2 separate regions of the Homo sapiens genome follow, and region 1 is linked to region 2. Evidence: fine-mapped expression QTL. Tissue or cell type: whole blood. Region 2 holds a variant in brackets; the other region holds the start of a gene. All regions are shown on one strand. Distances are from middle to middle.

Region 1 (8,000 bases), 39 kb before region 2:
TTTGCTTTAGGACTATCTGCGTCTGAGAGTGTACTTTTGAAGGAGCTACATTGTCCGGAGTATATACCCTGGGGTTCATCGTCTTGCACGAGGAAAATTTAGAATACGGATACACACGAGGAGTTTAGGAGGAGATGTAATATTTCTATTTTTAGGATAGATCACGAGATGTAGACACTAGACATTTAAAATGTTACCAGATACAGGCCAGGTGCAGTGGTTCATGCCTCTAATCCCAGCACAGTAAGAGGCTGAGGCACGCGGATCACCTGAGATCAGGAGTTCGAGACCAGACTGGCCAACATGGTGAAACCTCGCCTCTACTAAAAATACAAAAAAAAAAAAAAAAAAATTAGCTGGGCATGGTGGTGTGTGCCTGTATTCCCAGCTGCTCTGGAGGCTGAAGCAGGAGAATCTCTGACAATCTCTTCAGCCCGGGAGGCAGAGGTTGCAGTAAGCCGAGATCATACCACGGCACTCCAGCCTGGGCAACAGAACAAGACTCCATCTCAAAACAAACAAACAAACAAAAAAACAAAAAAAACCCCAAAGTTACCAGATACAGTCCAAATTGCCCTCCAAAGTGGCTAGATAAATTTACCTCCCAACAGCAGTGTGCGAGAGTTCTCATTTTCCCATACCCTTGATGGTATGTTCTTGAAAGTCCTAAAGCTGCATTTCTTCACTAAAATTCTGTTAGTCACACTTTTTACTAATTTATACTGCCATCCAATGAGGTTTGATTACTATTATTATTATTTTTGAGACAGGGTCTTGCTCTGTCACCTAGGCTGGAGTGCAGTGGCACAGTCATACCTCACTGCAGCCTCAAACTCCCAGGTTCAAGTGATCCTCCAACTTCAGCCCCTCCCGAATAGCTGGGACTACAGGCATGCATCACCATGCCCAGCTAATTAAAATTTTTTTGCAGAGATGGGGAATCTCACTTTGTTGCCCAGGCAGATCTTGAACTCCTGGGCTCAAGCAATACCCCCACTTTGGCCTCCCAAAGTCCTGGGATTACAGGCATGAGCCACTGTGCGGGTCAATGATTCTTTTAATTAACTCTAGCGAAGTGGGCAGAGCATTCATTTTATTTACAAGTACTATACTCCTTCCCTTTGGCCTTTAAATATAATTTATAGGCAGCATTGATTTGCACTTAGAGACACTGTCTAACACAGGTCTCCGCTGAGAAGAGAAATTCGCCCATTCAAAATCTGTGTGTGGGCTAAAGGCTAAGGGCTTATGCCAGAAAAGATTTTTTGTTTGTGTTTTTGTTTTTGTTTTGAGAAGGAGTTTCACTCTTGTTGCCCAGACTGGAGTGCAATGGCGCAATCTCGGCTCACTGCAACCTTTGCCTCCCGGGTTCAAGCGATTCTCCTGCCTCAGCCTCCCCAGTAGCTGGGATTACAGGCTGGCCTCGAACTCCTCACCTCAGGTGATCCGCCCGCCTCCACCTCCCAAAGTGTTGGGATTACAAGCGTGAGCCACACGCCCAGCCAAAAAGATTTTTACAAGACGGGCAAGTGTTCGCTTTTCTATCAATATGTTAGCAGTCTGTATTTACTTATTTGCTGGTGAGAAACCTTTCTTCCCTGGTTTCTAAAGTTTGAAAGTCTTTGCCCCTGAGCTCATGAGATTTCCAGAGAACTGATTCAAACAACTTCATTAAATAGGTACTTACTTCATGCCTGGGGCTTTACATTTTTATTTAATCTTTACAACTCTCTTTTGCATTCTTATTGTCATCAGAAAAATGCAAATCAAAATCACGATGAAATACCATCTCATGCCAGTTAGAATGGCTTTTGTTAAAAAGAAAAAATAGCAGATGTTGCTGAGGCTGTGGGGAAAAGGGGAACATTTTTACACTGTTGGTGGGAATGTAAATTAGTTCAGCCACTGTGGAGAGCAGTTTGGAGATTTCTCAAAGAACTAAAAATTGAACTACCACTCGACCCAGCAATCTCATTACTGGGTCTATACTCAAAGGAATATATATCGTTCTATCAAAAAGACAGATGCACCCGTATGTTCACTGCAGCACTATTCACAATAGCAAAGACATAGAATCAACCCAGGTACGCATCAACAGTGGATTAGATAAAGAAAATGTGGTATATATACACCATGGAATACTATGCAGCCATAAAAAAGAACAAAATCATGTCCAGGAAGAGGGGAGAACAGCAACATGGATACAGCTGGAAACCATTATCCTAAGTGAACTAAGGCAGAAACAGAAAACCAAATACTGCACGTTCTTATAAGTGGGAGCTAAACATTGGATACACATGGACACAAAGATGGGAACAATAGACTCTGGGGAATACAAGAGTCGGGAGGCAGTTGGGGGAAAGGGTTGAAAAACTACCTATTGTGTATTGTGTACTTTGCTCACTACCTGGGTGACAGATTCATTTGTACTCCAAACCTCAGCCTCACGCAATATAGATGGGGTTTCACCATCTTGGCCAGCTGGCCAGGCTGGTCTCGAACTCCTGACCTCAGGCGATCCCCTGGCCTCGGCTTCCCAAAGTGTTGGGATTACAGGCGTGGGCCACTGCACCTGGCCTCAGTTTTTGTTTTTGTTTTTTTGTTTGTTTGTTTTTTGAGATGGAGTCTCGCTCTGTCCCCCAGGCTGGAGTGCAGTGGTGCAATCTCGGCTCACTGCAAGCTCCGCTTCCCGGGTTCATGCCATTCTCCTGCCTCAGCCTCCCGAGTAGCTGGGACTACAGGCGCCCGCCACCACGCCCGGCTAATTTTTGTATTTTTAGTAGAGACGGGGTTTCACAGTGTTAGCCAGGATGGTCTCCATCTCCTGACTTTGTGGTCAGCCCGCCTCGGCCTCCCAAAGTGCTGGGATTACAGGTGTGAGCCATCACGCCCAGCCTGGTCTGTCTCAGTTTTAAAACGGAAAGTCCTGCATCCCAAGAAAACCTCTAGTCCAGGCAAACCTAGGTGGGTCGCTCTAGGATGGAATTAGGATTTCCAGTGGTCTTGGACAGAAGGGCGACCTCTCCCTTGAGTTACGAAGGAAGGCGGAGAGATGAAGGGCAGGATTAAATAAACAAGTATGCGGGCTTTGGAGCCAGGGCAAAGCTCTGCCTTTTAGCTGTGTGATCTTGAAATTATTTAACCACTCAGATTCAGTTTCCTGTAATTTGGGGATAATTAAACAAGAATGAGCCGTGTGAAAGTGCCTATCCAACTGTAGTAGGCTCGCAGCAAGAGTTTAAATCGTTTTTATTCATCTCCGGTCCTAACTTTTGCCGCTGCTCTGTGTTCCACTCTTCTATCATCTTTAATTTCTCTGCTTGACTTGTTCCTGCTTTGTTCTCTCTGGTCCCTCTCCGGTCGCTCCTGCCACTCACGTTGAGTACCATCCACCACTAGAGGGCGGAATAGAACAAACCAAGATGGGTGCCCCTCCAGCTCTCTATGGCGTCTGCTCGCCGAGCCCCGCAAAAGAGGCGGGGATTCCATCATGTGACCGGGGTGCTGGGCGCCGGCGCAGGCGCGGTTGCTGCGTAGTCGTCGCCGGGCTCCGTTGCCCGCGCTGTTTTACCTTCCCAACGCTTGAGGCGGACGCTGGGGGGTCCTGCGCCTTTCCCTCCTGCCGCTGGGGACTGCAGGCTAAGGCCATGTCCCGAAAGCAGGCGGCGAAGAGCCGGCCGGGCAGCGGCAGCCGGAAAGCCGAGGCCGAGCGCAAGCGGGACGAGCGGGCGGCGCGCCGGGCCCTGGCCAAGGAGCGGCGGAATCGGCCGGAGTCTGGCGGCGGCGGCGGCTGCGAGGAGGAGTTCGTCAGCTTCGCCAACCAGCTGCAGGCCCTGGGGCTGAAGCTGCGGGAGGTGCCGGGGGACGGGTGAGGCGGGCCGGGAGCGAGGGAGGCGGCGCCGGGGGACGCGCCGGGCTCGGCCTGGCGACCGTTGCCCGCTCGCGTCCATCCATCCATTCATTCGGGCGGCCCGGGCGCCTCCCGCGAGCCAGCCACGCTCCGAGTGCAGGGCGTCCAGCTGCGAGTGAGGCGGACAAGCCCCTCGCCCCGAGACGCTCGCGGGGATCCCAAAGGGTCCTAATCATGGCAGACGCCGCGAGCGAAATAGAAAGTGGGTGCTGAGACCGTATATGGGAGCAGGGCCACTGGATTGTGGCCAGGAAGGGCTCTCTCAAAGGTGACATTTAAGCTGAGTTCTGAAGGAATGAGATGGAGCCAGGCATTGGAAAAACAGTTATCATGACGATAAGACCAGTTGAAGGAGTTTGAGTAAGCCCCACTTGGTAGAACGCTTTGCCTCCTTTGAGTCCTTGGTTTTTGGGTGGTGCCCCCATTTACATTTGTGAAATTAGGTCGCCTGTTTACTGAGCTGAAGGCAGCTTCTCTAATTCTTCCTTCCATGGGCCTCAGTTTCTCTGTAAGCAAAGGTGCTTCCCCAAGCTTTCTTGGGACTTAGACTGGATCCAGGTCCAGCTTTCTTTAGGGAACGCGGAGGGGGAGAGTGGGGAGGAGGAAGAAAATTAGCTTCAAGAAAGGGGATATGGCTCCAGGAACATGGATGGAAGAAGGAAAAGGGTCAGGAAGAGGGGAGAACAGTTAGGATCCCCATTGCAGGGGCAGGTAAAAAGGGGTCTGGTTGTCAGCTGTGTCACTTTGGAAGAGAGAGTGTTAATAACAGCCTGGCTTTTGTTTTTTTCCTCCCCGTATTTGAGTGCTCAGATCCTGCAGAGGGAAGACTAAAATGAAATTAAAGACCATAAGGAATTGCCTTAGTTCATTATTATTGTTATTTTGTAGAGACGGTGATTTTGCTGTGTTGCCCAGGCTGGTCTCGAACTCCTGGCTTCAAGCGATCCTCCTGCCTCGGCCTCCCAAAGTGCCTAGATTACAGGCATGAGCTACCACCCCCGGCCAGGAATTGCCTTAGATATTAACTGCAGAATAAGGTGTTTTAAAAATTTTCACATTACATTGCAGCTTATTGATTAAGACTGTGAACTGGTCCTAATTTCCCTTTCCCACCGTTCCTGTTTATGCTCATTGCTTCAGGCAGATTGGATTTCTTTTTGCTCACAAAGAGTTCACCACACTTTGCTGCGTTGCTGTTTTTGCTTAAGATGCAGTTGGAACTTGATTACATTTATTCACCATCATCTGGCAAAGTGCTTGGTACATGGAAGGCAGTCAGTACGTTTTTGCTGAATGAAATATAAAAATAATAGAGGGAGGTCAGCTAGCCTAAGCATAAGCCCAAGACACCCTTATAGAAACAGAAATACCAATTGAATACAGTGGAATTGGCGTGGGACATTGGGGCTTTTCCTTGCAAATGATTGGATTGCTTGTGTCTGCTATACTGGGTATGGTATTCTCAATGTCAGGGTGCCCAGGAAACTGAAGTACTCAATAGAAGGTTACTTATGAGGAGGAATTAGCACAGGGAGTTGTAAACTCTTGAGGGGGCTTTCATAAGGTTATGGGAAACTTTGGGGGTACTACTTCTGCTCCCTATCCCCACACCCCCATACACACACAGCATACTTTTCAAGTTAATTCAGCACACCTTAAGTAGGGTGCTGGGAATATGTTGATGACTAAGATACTTAAGGACTTCATAGCCTAAGGTAGAAACACGTAACAGTGGGTCTCAGCTTTTTTGGTCTTAAGATCTCTTGGCATTCTTAAAAATTACTGAGAAACCGAAAGAACTTTATATGGGTTATAGCTATGAGTATTTACTGTATTAGAAAGTAAAACAAAGTTAAAACACAAGAATACACACACATTCCATTAGCTATCAGAGTGATGACTTCATGCATCAGGTAGCCTCTGGAAAACTCCACTGCACTTGTGAGAGAATGAGAATGAAAAAGGTACATTACATCTTAGTTTTGAACTCACGGATACCCTGAAAGCATATCAGAGACCTTCCCACATCTCCGGTCCCTTGAGTCACACTTTGAGAACAGATGATACAAATAATTAAAATATAGTTTGATATATTTTTAGTAACAGTGACTGATTATAATGGTACTATTGAGAAGGAAAAGGCTACTACTCTATGAATTGGCCAGGAAGTCCTTCTCGTTCATTCGGTAAATACTCATTGGATACACTGCTAGATGCCTCTCAGAGGGTGTCATGCTCTGATTGGGTCATGAAGGACCAATAGGAGTACACCAAGAGAACGGTCCCATCTGAGAAGGAGTATATATAGAGGCACAAGGACACGATGTTTTTGGGAGATCTACAGGTTGTTTAGGGTGACGGGTAGTGTAGGGCACAAGGGTAGAAGTAACGGGCAGTGAAGCTAGGCTCCAGAAACCAGCTTGACTGGAGTGCTCATGTCTCTCTTCCAAGGTTCCTGTTATTCGGACAGTGTTAGATAAAATGATCGTATTTCCTCTTGTGTGGGCTTCATGGAGCTAACCACCTTCTGTTCACAAGTTCTTCACATGAGTTCCATTAGCTGGACTGTGGTTCAGCCCTCGTCAGTATCCTAGTCCTTTCGAATGTGGTGATGACAGACTTTATCACTGCAGGGGATGGTGTTTCCTGTGTATGTGATGGGTTGGCAGGTGTCAACAGATTCTTCTACCCCCCTCAGACGGAGTCTTACTCTGCCACCCAGGCTGGAGTGCAGTGGCACAATCTTGGCTCACTGCAATCTCTGCCTCCTGGGTTCAAACAATTCTCTTGCCTCAGCCTCCTGAGTAGCTGGGATTACAGGCACCTGCTACCACAGCCAGCTAATTTGTTTGTATTTTTAGTAGAGATGGGGTTTCACCATGTTGGCCAGGCTGGTCTCGAACTCCTGACCTCATGATCCATCCGCCTTGGCCTCCCAAAGTGGTGGAATTACAGGTGTGAGCCACCGCGCCTGGACAACGGATTCTTTTATTAATGTTTATTAAGGACTCAGGTGAAATATAATGAAGTTAAAGACTATTAAAAAATAGTTGACATCTCTAGCGTTCCCTGTTTTCATTCAGATTTGATTACAATCTGGAGTAGCCTGATACAGTATCTATGAGCATGTTCATTGTTGGCAATATGGTACCTGTAGCATTCTGGAACCTGAGGGGGTTTAGGGATGAATTAACCAATATCCTGTAATACAGCCTTTACATGGGTTGAGTCAGCTTAGTGTAGATTAATCAGGGAGCTACTTAGAGGGTTTTGTAATGCTTCCTGGACCAGCTTCATATTTCACGTGTTGTCTGGAAGGTGGACCCACATAAATTGGATTCATTTTTCAAAGCAAGAAAGAAATAGTTTAACCTTGATGTTTTCCTTAAAAACATGATTGGCTATAGTGTGAAAAGAATGTATAACTCTATTTATTAGGCAGTACAATATTAACATCCCTCTGAACTTATCTAGTTGGGTCTTACTAAATGTAGTTCTGAGTTACATTACTCATTAGCAGTGTTCTAAAATTGAAACATTGAAGAATCACTAATTTTAGCTGTTTATCTTATTACTAACAAGTAGTTTATTTTTTAGTTTTGTTTTTAATATTGCAGGATCACAGTAGTAGAAGGGCATTCACACATCATCTTGTCTAATTATTGCCTGTGTCACCTGAACAGCAGTGCCATCTTTTGTGCCTCACTCAGTGGTTTTCAGTTGGGTGCCATACTAGAATATCTGGGGAGGAACTTTTGAAACAATTCAGGGCCTGGGCTCTCCCCTAGATCAACTACATCAGAATCTTAGAGTGGGGCCTGGTTATTGATGTTTTTTAAAAAAAAATTTACAGATGATTCTTATATGCATCCATAATTGAGAGTGACTGATTTAGAGTCTAGATGCTCAACTAGTGTTTCTCAAACTTCAGTATGCAACATAACCACCTGGACTGCTAGTGAAAACACCTGGAAGGGCTACGTTGCTGGGCCCCAACCCCAGAATGCCTGATTGAGTAGGCCTGGGTGGGCCCCAGCATTTTCATTTCTAACAACTGCCCAGGGGATGCTGATGCTCCTAGTCCGGGAAC
Region 2 (8,000 bases):
CCAAAAGACAGCTTGGTTTTGGTGGGTGGGGGTGGGTGAGTAGCAGGGGTCACAGCAGGCTGCGCTGGAATCTTGCTCCTAAGTTTCAATGTTTGTTTCGTCGGACAGTTATACAACTGTTAAGATCATCAGGTAGGTGTCCCATTGGTACCTTAAATCCATCATGCCCAGGTGTCACCTCTCTCTAATCTGCCCCATCAGCTCCTTCTCCCTGTGTTTTCTGTTTCTGCAGTGGCCATCATCCTCAGATGGTTGTATGGCCTTCTTTGGCATTTTCTCAGTATATTTATTTATGAAAATGTGAGGGGACCAATTTCACTAGCCCAGAAGCACACTTTGCCCACCTGAGGAAGAGAAATCGAGGTTTAAGCCAAGCGCAGGTTTCTCCCTAGTGGCCTGAATGAAATGGACACCAGAGGGCGCCTCAGGACCACTTTTCCTGCAAAGGAGGTTTGCATTCTTCCCCCACACAGGCCGTTTTTGCTTTAAGACATGGTCTTCTGGTGATACTTGGCTGAGGATTTGAGTCAGTTACAACAGCAAAGTACACACGCCTGTCCTCCCTTTCTTCTCCTCCTTCCTTTTGCTAGCACAGAGCTTCTTCACCTTTTAAAGGTCACAGCGATACATCCCTTTGATTTTTTTTTTTTTTTTTTTGAGATGGAGTTTCTACTCTTGTTGCCCAGGGTGGAGTGCAATGGCATGATCTTGGCTCACCGCAACCTCCATCTCCTAGGTTCAACGATTCTCCTGCTTCAGCCTCCTGAGTAGGTGAGATTACAGGCCTGCACCACCATGCCCGGCTAATTTTGTATTTTTAGTAAAGACTGGGTGTCTCCATGTTGGTCAGGCTGGTCTCGAACTCCCGACCTCAGGTGATCTGCCCGCCTTGGCCTCCCAAAGTGCTGGGATTACAGGTGTGAGCCACCATGACTGGCTCTTCCTTTGATTTTTTTTTGCTCTCCTCCCTGCCCTCAAGGTCCTGAATGCTGTGCACAGGCCCTGAGAAGGGTGAAGGGAGTGGTCATTTGTTGAGTGTCCAACTGTGAGCTTTGCCCTGTGCAATGCATTGGCAGGTGCTCTGTCATTGAGCAGGCGAATCCCAGTCCTGTAAGATTTCATCAGCATATAATAGATAATTCTATCTTTAGAAGTAACATCTGCTGAAATAGATTGCTTCCAGAATAGGCTGCATTCCTCCTGGTGGGAATCCTTGAGTGCATTACATTCTTCATGGCTTCAGAATCGGGAGGTTGGAGTCAGCCCTGGATGCTGAACCCTTTCCTCCTCCTCTTCCTGTGTCCTCACAGCTGAACGGCCCTGGGCACTCTGGTCTTTCCAAGATTACAACCAGCAGGCCTGGTTAACGTGGCCATACCAGAGCGTGGGTGGCTGATGACAACTTCATGAAGAAATGAAGGGCCAGGGAGTGGGGACACCCCCTCGGGTAGAACATCCCCTCTCTGGCCCCCAGGGGCCCATCAAAGAAGGGGTGTGGATAAGACCATCTAGAGCTGCTTCTCACTCTTAACCAATCTTTGCCAGTGTTGGGGATTTGAGGCCTGATGACACAGTGGGGACAATATTTTTAGGTTGGTATTTTTCGTGCTTTTCACATTAAGCCATATGGCCAGAAATATTCCTTCCAGAGATTGCATTATCTTTGATAAGATTGTAGAATGTTAGAAAAAGAGAGTCACAGGGCCGGGCACGGTGGCTCACGCCTGTAATCCCAGCACCTTGGGAGGCCGAGGCGGGCAGACCACGAGGTCAGGAGATCGAGACCATCCTGGCTAACACGGTTAAACCCCGTCTCTACTAAAAATATAAAAAAATTAGCCGGGTGTGGTGTCGGGCGCCTGTAGTCCCAGCTACTCGGGAGGCCGAGGCAGGAGAATGGCGTGAACCCGGGAGGCGGAGCTTACAGTGAGCCGAGATCGCGACACTGCACTCCAGCCTGGGCGACAGAGCGAGACTCTGTCTCAAAAAAAAAAAAAAAAAAAAAAAATAGAAAAAGAAAAAGAAAAAGAGAGCCACAGAAACTTACTGTCATGGAAAATTAAAAGAATTTAATGCTGGAATTGCAGGCAGGGCCACCCATGTCAGACTTGTTCCCACTGATTCCAGTGCATGCTGTCAGCACAAGGTAGGTGATCAGAAAATTAATGTATGAATGAAACTCTAGTGAATTAAATCCTAGAATGATTGACAGAATTTGAGACTCAAAGAACATTAGAATTATGGGAAAACATTATTCACTTATTCAGAAGAGGGAGCTGAGATCCCAGAAGCTAGTGACAGTCTTCTGGGTGCTGAAGGGTCCATGGCTCCTGGGGCAGGGTTCTTTCTACAGAGAAGGGGTAGCCTGGGAGGCTAGTGATGGTCCAGGACATATCTCTGAGCTCTCAAGGAGGGATGAGTTTGCAGGAAAGGAATTTTCCAAAGGGAGGGCCTTTGGTGCCAATGTTCCCCAGGCCTGGGACTACAGCAGCCCGAGGCGGGACCTCCAGGGACGGGGGGGAGGCCGAGCATAGCCTCAGCAGGGCGGGGTGGGCCCGGTGCACAGCTTGTTGGGATAATGGGCATATTTGCGGTTGTAGGTGCCCAGGTTGCGGCGAAAGCAGAGGGCAGCCCTCTTGTCACACTCGCAGGTCAGCCGCTGGCAGGTGGTCCTGCCGGCTGGATGGGACAAAGTGAGTCAGGGACCACAGAAGCTCAGGATATGTGTGGGACAGCTCTTGGCTGCTTCTGGGTCCACGTTCTTGACCTGGACCAACTCCATTCTGATGGAAGCCCAAGCTCCCGGGTTGTTTCACGGATGGGTGAGACAAGAGACAAGGGCGGGGCGCACTGTGGCTCAGGACACCAGGGAAGCTGGAAGCTTGCCCTCGCTGTCCCTCCCTGCTCTCCCAAGCCCACGCTGACTGCCCTTAGCTCTCTCCGGCCTTAGGGACACCACGTGGTTCCCTAACTCTCACTGCCCCCGACCAGGGGGATTTCTAGGCAACCCCTGCACCCCTGTGTGATGCGTTGCTGATGGCGGATTGTGGCCATCAAGCAGAGAGGACAGCTACGAAATGACAGCAACTCAATCTGATGGCTATGTGTGCCCCAGAGTGGCGTGGGCCTAGGCTGGAAGCCACTGGGACCAAAGCTGGAGGCTGCTCAGGGCCCTCTGCCTGTCCTCATCAGAGTGGACAGAGCCCAGTTTTCTGCCCATACCCAGCCTGGGAGTCAGACTTCTACCCTGACCTGTCCTTCCTAGAGCCAGCTGGCATCAGCTCTGTAGGGGCCCAGAAGGCTCCTCCTGTCTCCACTGCAGCTGCCTCTGTCACCTCTGCCTGCAGTGGCCCTGGCTCCCTTTTGTCCCCATGACTGTATCTCACAGCTCAGGCCAGGTGCCTCATTTCCCCTCTTGAAGTTGAGCCTTCGTCTCCCGTCAGGGCTCTGCCCACGCCCGCTATGTCAGCAACACCCAGGGTTGGAAGGGACTCTTAACGCCGAGCCGGTCAGCCTCTTTTGGGGGGCTTTTTCCAGGAGCTGGGCTGAGCTGGGGAAGTGGGTATAAGCCTCTCCGTTTTCTAGGTGAGGAAACAGAGGCTTTCCAGGGATTACATCACTTGTCCAAAGTCACAGGCAGGTGGAAGGTGACGCCCTGGGTAGAATCCAGAGCTTGTGTCTCCACCCACCTGCCTCCTCCCCTCAGCCCTGATCCTGGCAGGTGGCTGCTTCTGCCTTGCATGGACTCCCAGCGACAGAGACTCAGTACCTGGCACATTGCCCTGCCGAGTGGTTGGCGGCAGAGGAAATGGAGCCAGCTCTGCCCCGCCGCCAGGACAGAATTTAGAGACCTGAGTCTGCCGCGACCTCCCGAATCCTTCCGCGCTGCAGCATCCGCCCACCAGGCCCTGCCCTTCTTTCAGGCTGCTCCTGGCTTTGTGGCAGGGAGAGAGCTTGGCTCTCTCATGTGGGGTCCCTCGACAGTCTCACTTGGTTGAGGCTGCTTGCCTGGGCCTGGGACTGAAGGAAAGCTAATTGGTCCAAATGGGCACTGGACATGGCACAGCTGAGCAAATGGGTCCAGCCTGACAGTCCCATTGAGGAGTCAGCCTTTGGAAACAGCATCTGCTGTCCCCAGTCAAAGCCCCAGCTCGTTCTGTCCGAAGGACTTCACCTTTAGCTCCTGTTGAGGCCTTGGGAGGGTGCCTGAGTCCAGCTCCTCTGGGCCCTGGCTCAGCTCAGACCCCTCTGCTCCTCTTTCCAGAGGCTGGAGCTGGGAGGTGTCTGTGGGTAGGGAGATACCTGGGGCTGAGGGCTGCACTGATGGGGTACGGGCTTCTCTGGCCTGGGTGCCTGGTGAACATCTGGGTCTCCACTGTTACGTGGTAACGGGAAACCCCATGCCTCCAGCCCAGGGTCTGGCTCTGATAAGGCCCAAGGTCACCATCAGGAGGGGCTTCCTGTCTTAAGCTGCCTCCACCCACCTCACCGCAGGGTGTCTAGGTCACTTCAGGGCTCTCCACCTACCGCAGAAAATGCCACGTTCGCTGACAGAGAAAAGATACTTTTCCAGTTTGGGCTCACAGCCCAGCTTCTCCAGACGCCCGTAGCAGCAGTCGTGGGCGTGGCAGCACCTGTAAGGGTCATGGTTGACCTGGAGGGACCTGTGAGCCAGGCTGGGCTGGACCAGGGGCTGCTCGGGGCCCCCGAGCCCAAAGCAGCCCAGAGGAGAGATCAGCCTGAATTTTCCAGGTGCCCCCAGGCTTCCCTCCTTCTCCCAGGATCCTCCCAGGATCCCCCAGCTCCTCCATCCCCATGGAGGTCCCCCTGCAGGCTGCTTCCTCACCAGTCAGTCTGGTCCACCGGCCAGTGGGAGCCACCGATGCCGCAGTAACAGCCATAGTCGTTGTACTGCAGGGCGGACTTGCCTGTCATCTTCTCGATCATCACCCCAAACTGAACCAGGTTCCCGGTGACCAGAGCCACTGC[A/G]GAGAGGGAGAGGGAGAGGGAGAGGGAGGGCCCCACCCTCTGCAGCCAACTTCCCCTGATGTCCCCTCAAATCTGATCACAGGCATCTCTCCAGTTGTCCAGTTAAGCTCACCTCCCCAAAGCAACCCACTCTCAACAACAACCGTGGTAATAAGTAATAATATTGCCAGTGACATCCGTTGCACCTTCATCCCCTAGTCCTCTCCTCCAGTGTGTCAGCGCCCCCAGTGTCCCCTCCCACTCTTCTATCTACTACAGTGTCACTCATTCACCCCTTCCAGGGGCTCCCCACCAGCCACCAGTCCTCCCCAGGTGTCAGCCCTTATCTCACCCAGGAACACTCTGTCCCCCCAGGTCTCATCAGATGGCACTGGACCTGTCTCCTGACCACCTCAGCTGACCTCCCCAAATTCTTCCCGGTGCTCCTGACTCAGCCATGGGACTGAATCCTGCCCACCTTGGCAGGTTGGAGCCAAACATGGAAGCTAGGATAGGAGAAGGAGCCTAGGGTGTGCCATCCGGGAAGCGCCAGCCCCTGGCCCATGCCCCTCACCCCTCCCAGCCTGCATTCTCCTCCCCTCTGCTCCAGCCACCGCTGGCTCAGGCAAAACTGGCCTCAGGGTCACCCTGGTGGCAGGAAGGGGGCAGCCTCCAGTGTTTGGCATCCACCACACCCTCGGTAGGGCCAGGCTCAGGGGCATCCAGGGAGCTTGGGGTTGCCAGATGGGGCAGAAGGCTGAAGGTCACAAAGATCACTTACCCAGGAGGCAAAGGAACACCAGCACGTGGGGAGATTTCATCCCAGGTTGGGGGGAAGGGAGGTGCACAAGGAGCATAAAAGGCAGCAGAAGAAAGCAGCAGGGCCACCTCTGATCTCAGGGAGCCTCCTAATTAGTTAAATACCCAGGTCCTGTCCACTCCCTGTCATTAACCCGTGAGTGCCCAGTGATGCAACGATTCTTCCAGGTCTGACACTTTGGCCAAGTCCCCGGGGAGGGGCCAGCTGGGGCCTGTGGGCTCTGCTTCCAGGCAGTGTGGGGGATGGCGGGCAATCTCGTGGCTCTTTCTACTCACACCCTTCCCATCACCCACCCTTTCCAAAAAATCATCCATTGACCACGCTGTGAGGCGCGGGCTGTGCCAGGTGCTTGTCATTCTTGGTATCTTTTCCTCATCTCCACTTGACTGAGACTCAGAGAGACTGAAAAACCTCAGTTCTCACAGCCTGGAGGTGCCCAGGGCCAAGTCCGTCCTGTTTCAGAGTTTCCACCCGGGCAGAACCGGAGGCAGGAGGCCCTGGCCTGGCCTGGCGCTTCCCCTCCCCGACCCTCCTGCTCTGGTCTGTGACTGGGATCACTGACCCTGCACCTCCGTCACCGTTCAGGGCCTGGGAGTCGCTGGGTCTGTGGCCTTGGAGTCCTGGTTCCACTGCGTATTAGGCGGCCGTGGGCAGGTCCTTTCCCTTGCTTGGAACCTCAGTTTTCCTGCCTGTATTATGAGGATAGAAGGTGTCCCTCTTGCCTCCCGCACAGGAGGATGGAAAACTCACACGCAACCAGGCAGCCAGCCCTCACCAAGTACTTGCTATGCACCAGGCGCTGTGCCAAGCCCCTTTCAAGCAGGACCACAGCCCCATCACGTGGGTGCTGCAGTCATCCCCATCTTACAGAGGAGGGAAACTGAGGCACATGCATAAGTGATGAGCTAGAATTTAAACCCAGGCAACATAAAGGGCTTCACCTGGGCCAACTCATCCAGCACGAAGTGGAGGTGGTGCCTAGCAGCCATACTACTTTTAACCCCAACAGAATGTGTTACTTTCTTATAAAAGTAGGAGAAAAACCAGTACCATCCCACCTGGATTATATTTGTCTTCAAACCAAGACAGTCATAACATTTAATATATGGAGGAAGAGCCCACAAAGGCTGATGTGCCCAGGGCCCGTGACAACCGGTGTACTGCAGCCCTCGGCCTAACCAGCGGGCTCCAGGCTTCAGGAGCTGGTCTAGGGCCTGGTGCCAGCCTCCGTTCCAGGAGAGGAGACTAAACCCACTGAGTCTGGGTCTCACCCTACAGGCTGGAAGGAATCCCGACACAAATTCCCTGACCCCAACCAGCCGGAGGATAGAGGCCCGGGGAGGTTTCGCCTTGGAGTAAGGAGAGGAGGGCTGAGTGTTCATACTCTTACGTTAAAAACCTTTTATCGGCCGGGCACGGTGGCTCACACCTGTTATCACAGCACTTTAAGAGGCCAAGGCAGGTGGATCACTTGAGGTCAGGAGTTCGAGACCAGCTTGGCTTACATGGTGAAACCCCATCTCTACTGAAAATACAAAAATTAGCCAGGTGTGGTGGTATGCGCCTGTAATCCCAGCTACTCAGGAGGCTGAGGCAGGAGAATCGCTTGAACCTGGGAGGAGCAGGTTGCAGTGAGCCGAGATCACGCCACTTTACTCCAGCCTGGGTAACAAGAGTGAGACTCAGTCTCAGAAAAAAATAAATAAATAAAATAAGAGTAAAGCCCAGGAAACCCTTTTCTCCCTGCCCCTCCCATTCATTTCCTGCTAATAACTCCTCCTGGGACTCTCTTCATGCTGGGCTCTTCTCACCCTGTTTCAGAGAAGACTTGCGGGGAGAAGGGGTCAGAGAGGTGAGTCCACCTGCCCAGGATCACCTAGCAGCTGTGAGTCATGGTCTCCTGAAAAGAGAGACCTTTGTTCACGATTTCCTTTTGATCTCCTGGCAGCCCCTGCCTCTCCTGGCCTGGGTTACGAGAGCCCAAACAGTGAATCACTGAGGAGTTACCTTCTAAACAACTGAAAATTAGCGTCGATTCCCTAGTAGGTTTGGCCCACAGCCATTCCTGTGGTGGCATAAGGGGTGTTTCCCAGGAAGGGCCAGGTTTCTGAGACGATCCTTTTTGTGACCCATTTTGAATCCTGGCCTGGCTAGGACAGGGCTCCTTCAAGTCCCTGCAGGTCTACACCTGTAGCAGAAAAGTAAAGACTGT

Evidence for each region. PIP is the estimated chance that this variant, and not a neighbour inherited with it, causes the effect.
Region 1: it holds the start of OTUD3, and the variant in region 2 is fine-mapped to the expression of OTUD3 in whole blood (TOPMed, PIP above 0.99).

The regions. Positions count from the first base shown.
Region 1 is chr1:19,878,867-19,886,866 of GRCh38, forward strand. It overlaps OTUD3 (OTU deubiquitinase 3), which reads left to right and starts at 3,529. Exons shown (of 8, transcript NM_015207.2): 1 at 3,529-3,868. The coding sequence starts at 3,648. All of the region lies in intron 1 of LOC105376823 (a long non-coding RNA gene), which reads right to left. RefSeq lists an enhancer at 3,313-3,362 and a silencer at 3,733-4,072.
Region 2 is chr1:19,917,771-19,925,770 of GRCh38, forward strand. It overlaps PLA2G2E (phospholipase A2 group IIE), which reads right to left and starts at 5,847. Exons shown (of 4, transcript NM_014589.3): 1 at 5,750-5,847; 2 at 4,847-4,985; 3 at 4,528-4,634; 4 at 2,239-2,679. The coding sequence starts at 5,789. The coding sequence ends at 2,537. RefSeq lists enhancers at 2,673-3,225, 3,226-3,778. The variant A/G (reference allele first, on the strand shown) is at 4,990.